Linked DNA regions of Homo sapiens: region 2 is linked to region 1. The links come from fine-mapping of genetic effects on gene expression. A gene starts in region 1. The other region holds a variant in brackets. All regions are shown on one strand. Distances are from middle to middle.

Region 1 (4,394 bases):
GATTCAAATCTGGGAGATTTATTTCCTCAACAAATATTTACTGGGCATTTACTATGCACCAAGTATTAGATATTTAAGTGTAAAGTAATAGGGGTTGGAAATATAGAAGGAAAACTTCCCACGCAATGCAAACAGCAGGTTCAAAGTCACAAAGATGTGAGAAGGCAAGGCGAGTTCTTGGAAGGTGACTTCTTGGCGAATTCAATGTGACAGGGAATAGGGTGAGAGTTGAAGAGGAGCAATAAATGACAAGAGAAATAAGTGGAGGCAAGGATGTCTGTTTATAGGCAGTCTTGCATATCATACTATGGCATTTGAAATTTATTCTGTAAACACAAGGAGCCAAAGAAGGGTTTAATCAGGGGAGTGATGTGATCAAATTTGTGTTCTTAAAACACGATTCTGGTGATAGCATTAATCTGAGCAAAGTCAGTTTTCTTTAGGTATGGGACAGTTTTCTATGCAAACCAAAACTAATGGGTTTTGAAGTAAAAGCACTTAAAAATTAAGAAGTAAGAGTGAGTTTTCCAAATCTGCAGTAAAATACTACTTTGATTTGGAACATGTAGTATTGATCACAGATCAAACCTGTGCAAAAAAGAAGATCACAAACAGAAACATGGGACACTCTGAGTGAAACAACCAACTCTACCAGTCTGGCCCTTCTAAGATCTATCTCATAACCCTTGTATGCCTCATTAATTCCCTTAGCAAACGAACATTTATTGCACCAGACACTGCTTCAAGCACTTGGTATACGACAAAGAACAACAATAACAACAACAACAACAAAAGCCCACAAAAGATTCCTGCCCTCTGGAAGCTTGCATTTCTCTGAGATATAGATAATAAACACTAAACATACTAAGTAAATTACATGATATATTAGAAGGAGATAAGTGTTATCGAAATAAAACAGAGTAAGGAAAATTGGGAGCGTGCATTTATGATAGGAACCAAAAGAGGCTAACGAGTTGTAAGTGGATGATTTCAGCAAGGAATGAAAGGAACTGCAAAGCCCTCTGCGTGTAGAATTCATGACAAACTCTATGGTGGGGGCAAAGTCCTGTCGCTGCACATGGGTCTCAGCTGCAAAAAGAGAGTAGCCATGAAAAACTGTGTGTGTATATGCACACATACATAAACACAATAATAGATGATTTACAAATCATACATGTGATTTATACGTGTGTGTGATTTATACGTGTGTGTGATTTATAAAGCCTATGTAAGCCTACTTTAAACAGTGTGAGGTGGACAAGGCTTAAAACGGGCTGGAACATTTTCCCCCTATTATTTCCACAATAAACCATTCCTGGGCATGGTGGTGATGTGTGCGCGCGCGAGTGTGTGTTGGACAGCATCCCTTCCTTGGAACAGAGCCGGCCAGAGCCCTATTCTTCTACAACCTGTCCTAATAACAGCCTAACCTGGCAGGAACCTCGATTTTTTTCTTCTTACCACAAAAGCAAACCAAACCCCTTCCACAACCTAATATCATAGCGTGGTGTCCTTCCTCACTAATCCGCCACTGCTTCTCTAGTCCTGACTCCAAGGGAAGAATGCCATCTACCGAATCATCCGTACCAGTCAACCAGCCCCGCAAAGTGCAGCAACACTCAGCTCAACGCGGGTCAGCTCCAAATCCTCTCCCTCTGATTATTCTTTGGCCTTTAAAATATTTTTGCCTCTATTTGGGCTGACAGGAAGTTATGCTCTCGGCGCAGATATCTGATAAACACTTCCACATATTGTAGCCTTCTCAATAGCTTAGCCAAATTTCGGCGTCCTCGCTCTGTCTGCATTTTCCTTCATTGCTCTTTCACGTTTGGAATGCCCCCGTCTCTGCAGCCTGCAGACAGCGGAAACCGCGGGTGCAAATGTGCAGGGGCCGCTGACATGACCGGCTGCAGAAGCCCACTCAGGGTTACCCGAACAGGCTAGCGTTCGGGATTGCACAAGAGGTCAGGCGATGCTGTGGGCTTCCAAATTTGTACAGCTGCGACACTCTGCGACGTGCCACCCTATCCCCAGTGGGGTGGGGTGGGGGATTCCCTCCGCAGTCCGCTGAAAGCGAGGCAGGAATCACTGCAACTCCTCTGCTCAGGCTGAGGTCGCCACCGCTCCGCGGATGCACGCGCTGCAGGGGCGCCTTCCGCCGCGGGCACGGCGCGGGAAGGGATGGGGTCTGGTGGGAGTGGGCAGGTGGCGGGAGAGGCGCGTGTCCGTGCACTAGAGGCCCCCGTGCGTGACACAGGCCGATGAGCTCCTGCGGGCTGCACCCACGCGGAGTCACAGACCGAAAAGGTCAGCCGGTGGCCGGTGTGCTAACATATATAGAGAGACGCCCGCCAGGCGCGCCGCAGGCTGGGACGAGGCTAGGAGGGCCCAGGCTGGAGGAGGGCTGAGGAGGGCTGCGGGGGCGGGCCCCGGCGCAGGGCGCCCGGAGCGGAGGGGGCGGGCCCGAGGCGGGGCGGGCCGCGGCGCTGACGGGCTGTCGCCGCTGCACTCGCCTCCAGCCCGCGGTGTCGAGCGCAGGCGGAGGTACATGGCCCCGACGGGAGGCGCGCGGCGAGCACCCGGAGCTCGGCTCCCTGCCTGAGCACGGCAGCCGCGCCTCCGCCCGCGCGTCCTCGCCCCTCCGGCCGGCAGCCCGCGGACATGATCGTGTAGCCTCCTCCTGGGCTGGGATTTGTTTGAAGATTTTCTTCATGGAAGCGATGTCCCCCCAGCAGGAGACTCTAGGGGGACAGCCGGGGCGCTCCTCTTCCCTGACAGGAGTGTCTCGGCTCGCGGGAGGCAGCTGCACCAAGAAGGTGAGGACGCTGAGCGGGGGCCCGTGCCCTCCGCCGCCGCAGCCCCCACTGCCGGCGCGCGCCCTCCGCGCCCGCCACAGCAGCGCGCTAGGCGGACGCCGCGGGAATTTGACGCTCGAGGCTCGCGGCCCCTAATGAGAGTCCCAGAACACTTCCCGCCCTTGACGGCCAGCGGCAGCGCCGCCGCCTCCCGCAGAGCGCCCGCTTCTCCGTTTCTAGAGCCTTAGTCTCTCCTCGAGCGACCTCGCAGCCTCCCTCCCGTCTCCATCCGCCGCCGGTTCTGCAGCCCGGCTCCTCCCTCAGTCTAGGCGCGCGGGCTGTAGTGGGCGATCGCCTTTCCCCGACCCCTCGCCGTGCCCCTGGGCCTCCCGAAGTGGCCTGGGCGAGCACTGACTGCCCTTTGGCGGTGTCAGCCCCAAAGTCAGGGCCGGCGATGTCTGCCCGGGAGCGGCAGCCGGCGCTGAAGAAGGTAGGCAGCGGGGCTGCGGCGCTGGTGGGCTCGGCCCCCTCACCTGCCCGCCGAGGCGCGGCTGCTCCATAGCAGTTTTCGGGGGGCAGATATGGGGAGTACTGCCCCCCACACCAGGGTCCTGGATGATTCCGGGTCTCCCAGGTGGGGGTCACAGTTTGAGGGGCGACTGTGGATGATAACGCTCGACACTACGGGGACATGTAGGTTCGGCTGGGCCTAGAACCGAGCAGGGTGGGGGCGGGTGGGCTGTGGTTGGGGGTCCTGAGGGCTGAGGTGGGGGACCTTCTCCCTGCACTGGTCCCTGGCCCCTGGGACTCTGGCCGGGCTGGATAGGGATCCGGGTGTCGGTGTGGGCGTGGGGGCAGCGCGTGTTCCCTGTCAAAGCTGGGAGAGGGATGCAGGTGACAACTTGTAGCGTTCCATTCCGATAAACACGGCCGCTGTGCTGCGGGAGGATTCCGATCCGGGTCAGGTTTCGCTGGAACGGTTCCCTGAGCAAGTGCACGTGGGCCGCGGGCTGCCGGCCTCTGCCGTTTCGCTCCCTGAGGAATTGATTTGGGTGTTTCTAGCCCTGTCTGCCTGTCCCCCGCCTCCCCACCCCCGCTTCCAGCATAAGACTTTCCGATATTTTGCCTTTTTTTTTTTTTTTGCCTTGTCTTAGTGGTGCCCTTCCAGCTTTTCTGGAAACAAGTTGCGATTAGAGGCATCTTCTAGCTTTTCCTTAAGAAATATCTTAAGGGATTGCATTTGTTTCATTAGAGACTTAAAGGGGTTACGCAGGTTCCCTGCTTGTCTTGATTTTACTGCCTTTCATAAATCTTCCCACCAGGATCTTAGGTTGGCTAGAGGTCAGTTGAAGAGAGGTGATCGGTGTGCCGAGTATAGAAATGTGTGGGAGTTCCCAAGGACCTTGACCGTGTCACGGAGCCATCTAGGGGTGTCCGTGAACTTGATGATGTATGGGCTGTAGTGCCAGCTCAGCCTTTGATGTATTGAGGCTGCGGTTTGTCCTTGTCGCTTTTCCCCTTCGGAGATGGAGGGAGTGTGTGTGTGTGTAGTCAAGTCTTCCCAAATAAAACGTGAATTTATCAGGCTAGCCCTACATT
Region 2 (4,394 bases), 230 kb after region 1:
GCCTCGCCCTGTCACCCAGGCTGGAGTGCAGTGGCATGATCACTCCTGGCTCAAGCATTTCTCCCACCTCAGCCTCTCGAGTAACTAGGACCACAGGAGTGTATCAACATGCCTGGCTCATACTATTCATAATATGAAAAATGCCCAACCATAGAAGAATTGCTAAAGAAACTACAGCAGGAGAGAAAATTAAGCAGCCATTAAAACTGATTATTGCAAAGTATCTTTAACACTATATGAAAATATTCAGGCCACATGAAGTAATAAAAGCAGGACATAAACATTTTATACATTGTATTTGTTTGACTATGGTAGAAAAAAGGACAATAAAATATTTCAAAAGAAAATATTACAAAATATTAAGGTTTTTTTTTGGTTTTTTTTTTTTTTTTTGAGACAGAGTCTTGCTCTGTCACCCAGGCTGGAGTGCAATGGCACAATCTCAGCTCACTGCAACCTCCACCTCCCAGGTTCAAGTGATTCTCCTGCCTCAGCCCCCTGAGGGCTGGGATTACAGGCGCCTGCCACTACGCCTGGCTAATTTTTGTATTTTTAGTAGAGATGGAGTTTCACCATGTTGGTCAGGCAGGTCTTGAGCTCCCGATCTCATGTGATCTGCCCGCCTCGGCCTCCCAAAGTGCTGGGATTACAGGCGTGAGCCACCGCACCTGGCCCAAAATATTAAGTTTTACAACTGCATTTTTCTTTCTGTATTTTCCAATGCAAAAATGACTTTGTATGTTTTAATAATTGGGGAAAATTAAAATAACTGTTTTGACCATGGAATACTATGCAGCCATAAGAAGGGATGAGATGATGTCCTTTTCAGGGACATGGATGGAGCTGGAAGCCATTATCTTCAGCAAACTAACATAGGAACAAAAGACTAAACACTGCATGTTGTCACTTATAAGTAGGATCAGAACAATGAGAACACATGGACATACTTGGTGGGGAACAACACACACTGGGGCCTGTCAGTGGTGGGTAGGAGGGGAGAACATCAGGAAGAATAGCTAATGGATGCTGGGCTTAATATCTAGGTAATAGGTTGACCTGTGCAGCTAACCACCATGGCATACATTTACCTATATGACAAACCTGCACATCCTGCACATGTACCTCAGGACTTAAAAGTTAAAGAAGAAAAAAATGAAATAATTGGTTTCGAATACAACAGCCTCAGATTGCCCTTAGTGATGACCTCCCTTTGTCAGGGTTGCAGTGTGGTGACTGGGCACACCCTCTCCCTCCAGCTGGCCCTGAGCTACTCAGAGGGAGACCAGGTAGGCATACCCCAGGCTGGCTGTCAGCAATTTTTGGATGGTTTCTAGCCAGGCTGCCCCATGGAAATGTTCCAAATATTTTTCATCAGTTGGCTCCCTCAAAGAGTGAGACCAACATTTCCAACACGGCGGCCTAAATAATATAAGCTCCATTTTCTTGATTTAGGGAGAAAAAGTGAAAGAGTGTCCATGGACATTAGGGCAGTCTCCTGTTTCCTAGCCTTGGAGGTAGAGTTAATAGATATAAGCATGATCTGCAAATTCCCTGGTAAGATGTGCTTCACAGTGCTACGGATCTAATTAGTCTGACTAAGAGGGACATATAGCTAAAATCACCAACCCTTCCAGACAACAAACGGTTGGCTGACCAGAAACCAGCACCCAAGAACCAAGATAACTCCTTGCATTGCTTCAGCTCATGAGCTACATGCGTGATTAGAAAAATAAGTTACTCACCACAAAAATCACAGAGCAAGAGACAGGAAAGAAGAGGAAGGTTTTCTTCTCCCTGCAACTAAATATGCATAGATAAAGGAGAAGCTAGGGTCAAA[A/G]CGTTGTCAGTGTGACAAAAGCTGAATTTCTGCTTGGGATGGAAGATCAGGAAATGATTTTTGCAGTTTATTAATAATCTAATCATAGTCTTTGCAGCTACCATCATGAATGAGTAATATCCTTTCCCACAGACACAGGTGTCAAGTCAAAGAGAAATGGATAAGCAGACACCATGGGCGTCACGGGCCTCTGCCTTAGGGATCTCTGCATAAGACAGCACCAGCATAATTTTCAGCAACAGGCTGGCTGGACATGTCTTCGTGATGCTGCTGCAGGAGAGTGAATGTTCCTGAATCCAGGTGCAATGGGAAAGCACAAATTTCCTTGGCATTTCCCATTTTCCCCACAGCGGCCTCTTCCTCATTTATGTATCTCTTCTTTCATCTTCTCTCCTCCCCTTCAAACATATTCCTCCAACCCTAGATTGCATTGCTGTATTTCCTGCCGAGCCGTGGCTAGATAAGAGGTTAACTAATAAAAGTATAGGGTGTCCACAGCTCCCCTGCAGAGGCATTCACTAATAATGAGAGGATTCTTTGTGGAGGGAAAAAAGACACTTTTTTTTCCCCATTATGAAAGGTAGCTGTTAATATTTTAGCATAATTCCTTTCAGTCTTTATTCTGTGCATAATTTTTGTTTGGACTTTTGAGTATAGTTGAGATGACATTGTATGTATGATTATAGAACCTACTATATTTTCATGTAACAAGCATTTCTCGAAATTATTATAGACTCATAGGAAGGATCATTTTTTTTAAGGTACATGTAATATTCCACTCAGTTGATGGGCCATAATTTACTGAACTCTTTCTCTACTGTCATAATTCCCCTTAAGGGAGGAATTGTTCTAAACTTAGAAAAATGCTTTTAAGTCCTAAAAGTAACAATAATTGCTCTATTACTATATAATAGTAATAATAATAATTGAATACTCACTACATGCCAGATATTCTAAACATTCTCTATTTATTAACTCATTTAATCCTCACAGCAAATGTTAAAAGACAAGTACTATTAATTTTACTATCATGTGGGAGATAACAGTTTGCAAACCTGTAAAATTAAGGCATGTTCCAGAGAACAAAGGGAAGTTTCCAGTTTTATAGCAAAAGTTCCTGCCCAGCTACCCAATCAAATCTGTTTATCCAAATGAAAGTTTCAAACTTGCCTAGTTTTCATTGGTTGGCACAGCTGAGTTCTGATTGGTCAATACAACTGATCCTTGATTGGTTGATATAGCTGAGCCCTGATTAGTTGGCTCTGGTGAGCTCTGAAGTCCCCAAGTTAAGCAGAGGTGAGATTTTTCTGGAAACTCAGAGTATGGCCATTTGGCTTTATTTTTAAATTTAGGCCTACTTAGCCACCTGGGCTCCATCTTGAAGGACTGGCTTAGCCACCCAGGATCCATCTCGAAGGACGTTTTTAGGTTCACATTTGTTCACAGTATAGAGATGGCAAGGAACTTGCTGAAGCTCCCAGCTAGGAAGTAGGAGAGTATAGCTTTTGAATCCATGCACTTTGGCTCCAGCACTTGCGTACTGAAGTACAAGATGGATGATAAGAGGCAAGGGTCCATTTGTGAGCTGGAGTCACAAATTCAAGTTCAAGAACAAGAGCATAACTGCTCAGCATGAGACAAGGAGAGGAACTCTGTTATTGAAATGCAGAGGGTGGGAGGGGAGGTGGAAAATGAAGGAAAAGAGAGAAGAATCAAGTGATGATGGGGAAGGGACCAAGAGAAGAACTTGACAGTGGTGGGAAGCCAAAAATAGGACTTTAGAGAAAATCTGTCTAAAGCAGATTTTTAACAATAGCTTTATTGAGGTATAATTTACATAAACTATATTTGAAGTATACAATAAGTTGAAACTATCACCACAATCAAGATAGTAAAAATGTCTATCACCCCAAAGTTTCTTTGTGTTCCTTGTAAGCTCCCAATCCAATCCCTGCCTACCCAGGCAACCACAACTTCTTTCTGTCATTATAAATTGATTTGCATTTTCTAGAATCGTATATCTATATATGGAATCATATACTATATACTCCCTTTCTGTCTGGTATATTTCACTCTGTAGTTATTTTGAGATTCATTTATGTTTTAGTATGTATAAGTAGTTTATTCCTTTTAATGCTGAGAAGTATTTCATTATATGAATATGTCAAAAATCTGTGTATCTGTTCCCCTGTTGATAGATATTTGGGTTGTTTCTAGTTTGGGGCTATTACAATAAAGCTGCTCTGGACATTCCTGTTCAAGTCTTTGTATGAACACCTGTTTTCATTCCACTAGGAACAGAATTACTGAGTTATATTTTTTGTTGAACTCTTTAAGAAACTGTTTTCCAAAGTGGTCATTCCAGCAACATATAAGAATTCCAATTCTTCAATATCCTAACCAATACTTGATACTGTAAATCTTTTTAATGTTAAATATTCTAAAGATATGTAGTAGCATCTCATTGTGATTTTAATTTGCATTTTCCTGAGCATGTTTTCATGTGCTTATTTACCATCCATATCTCTCTCTTGATGAAGTGTCCATTAAAATATTT

Alleles and levels. Positions count from the first base shown, and alleles are read on the strand shown. Sizes are in standard deviations (SD) of each study's normalised expression.
For the expression in monocytes after LPS of the gene that starts at base 2,506 in region 1, G is the high allele of the variant in region 2 and A is the other (large effect, 1.0 SD a copy in Quach 2016).

The links. PIP is the estimated chance that this variant, and not a neighbour inherited with it, causes the effect.
Region 2: its variant is the best candidate, but not a certain one, in a credible set for the expression of ARHGAP20 in monocytes after LPS (Quach 2016, PIP 0.61).

The regions. Positions count from the first base shown.
Region 1 is chr11:110,710,549-110,714,942 of GRCh38, reverse strand. It overlaps ARHGAP20 (Rho GTPase activating protein 20), which reads left to right and starts at 2,506. Exons shown (of 15, transcript NM_001384657.1): 1 at 2,506-2,816. The coding sequence starts at 2,712. RefSeq lists silencers at 2,395-2,554, 2,575-2,634 and enhancers at 2,158-2,659, 3,642-4,287.
Region 2 is chr11:110,483,722-110,488,115 of GRCh38, reverse strand. No RefSeq gene overlaps it. Among named protein-coding and RNA genes, the nearest start is that of FDX1, 56 kb to the right of the region's middle. The variant A/G (reference allele first, on the strand shown) is at 1,838.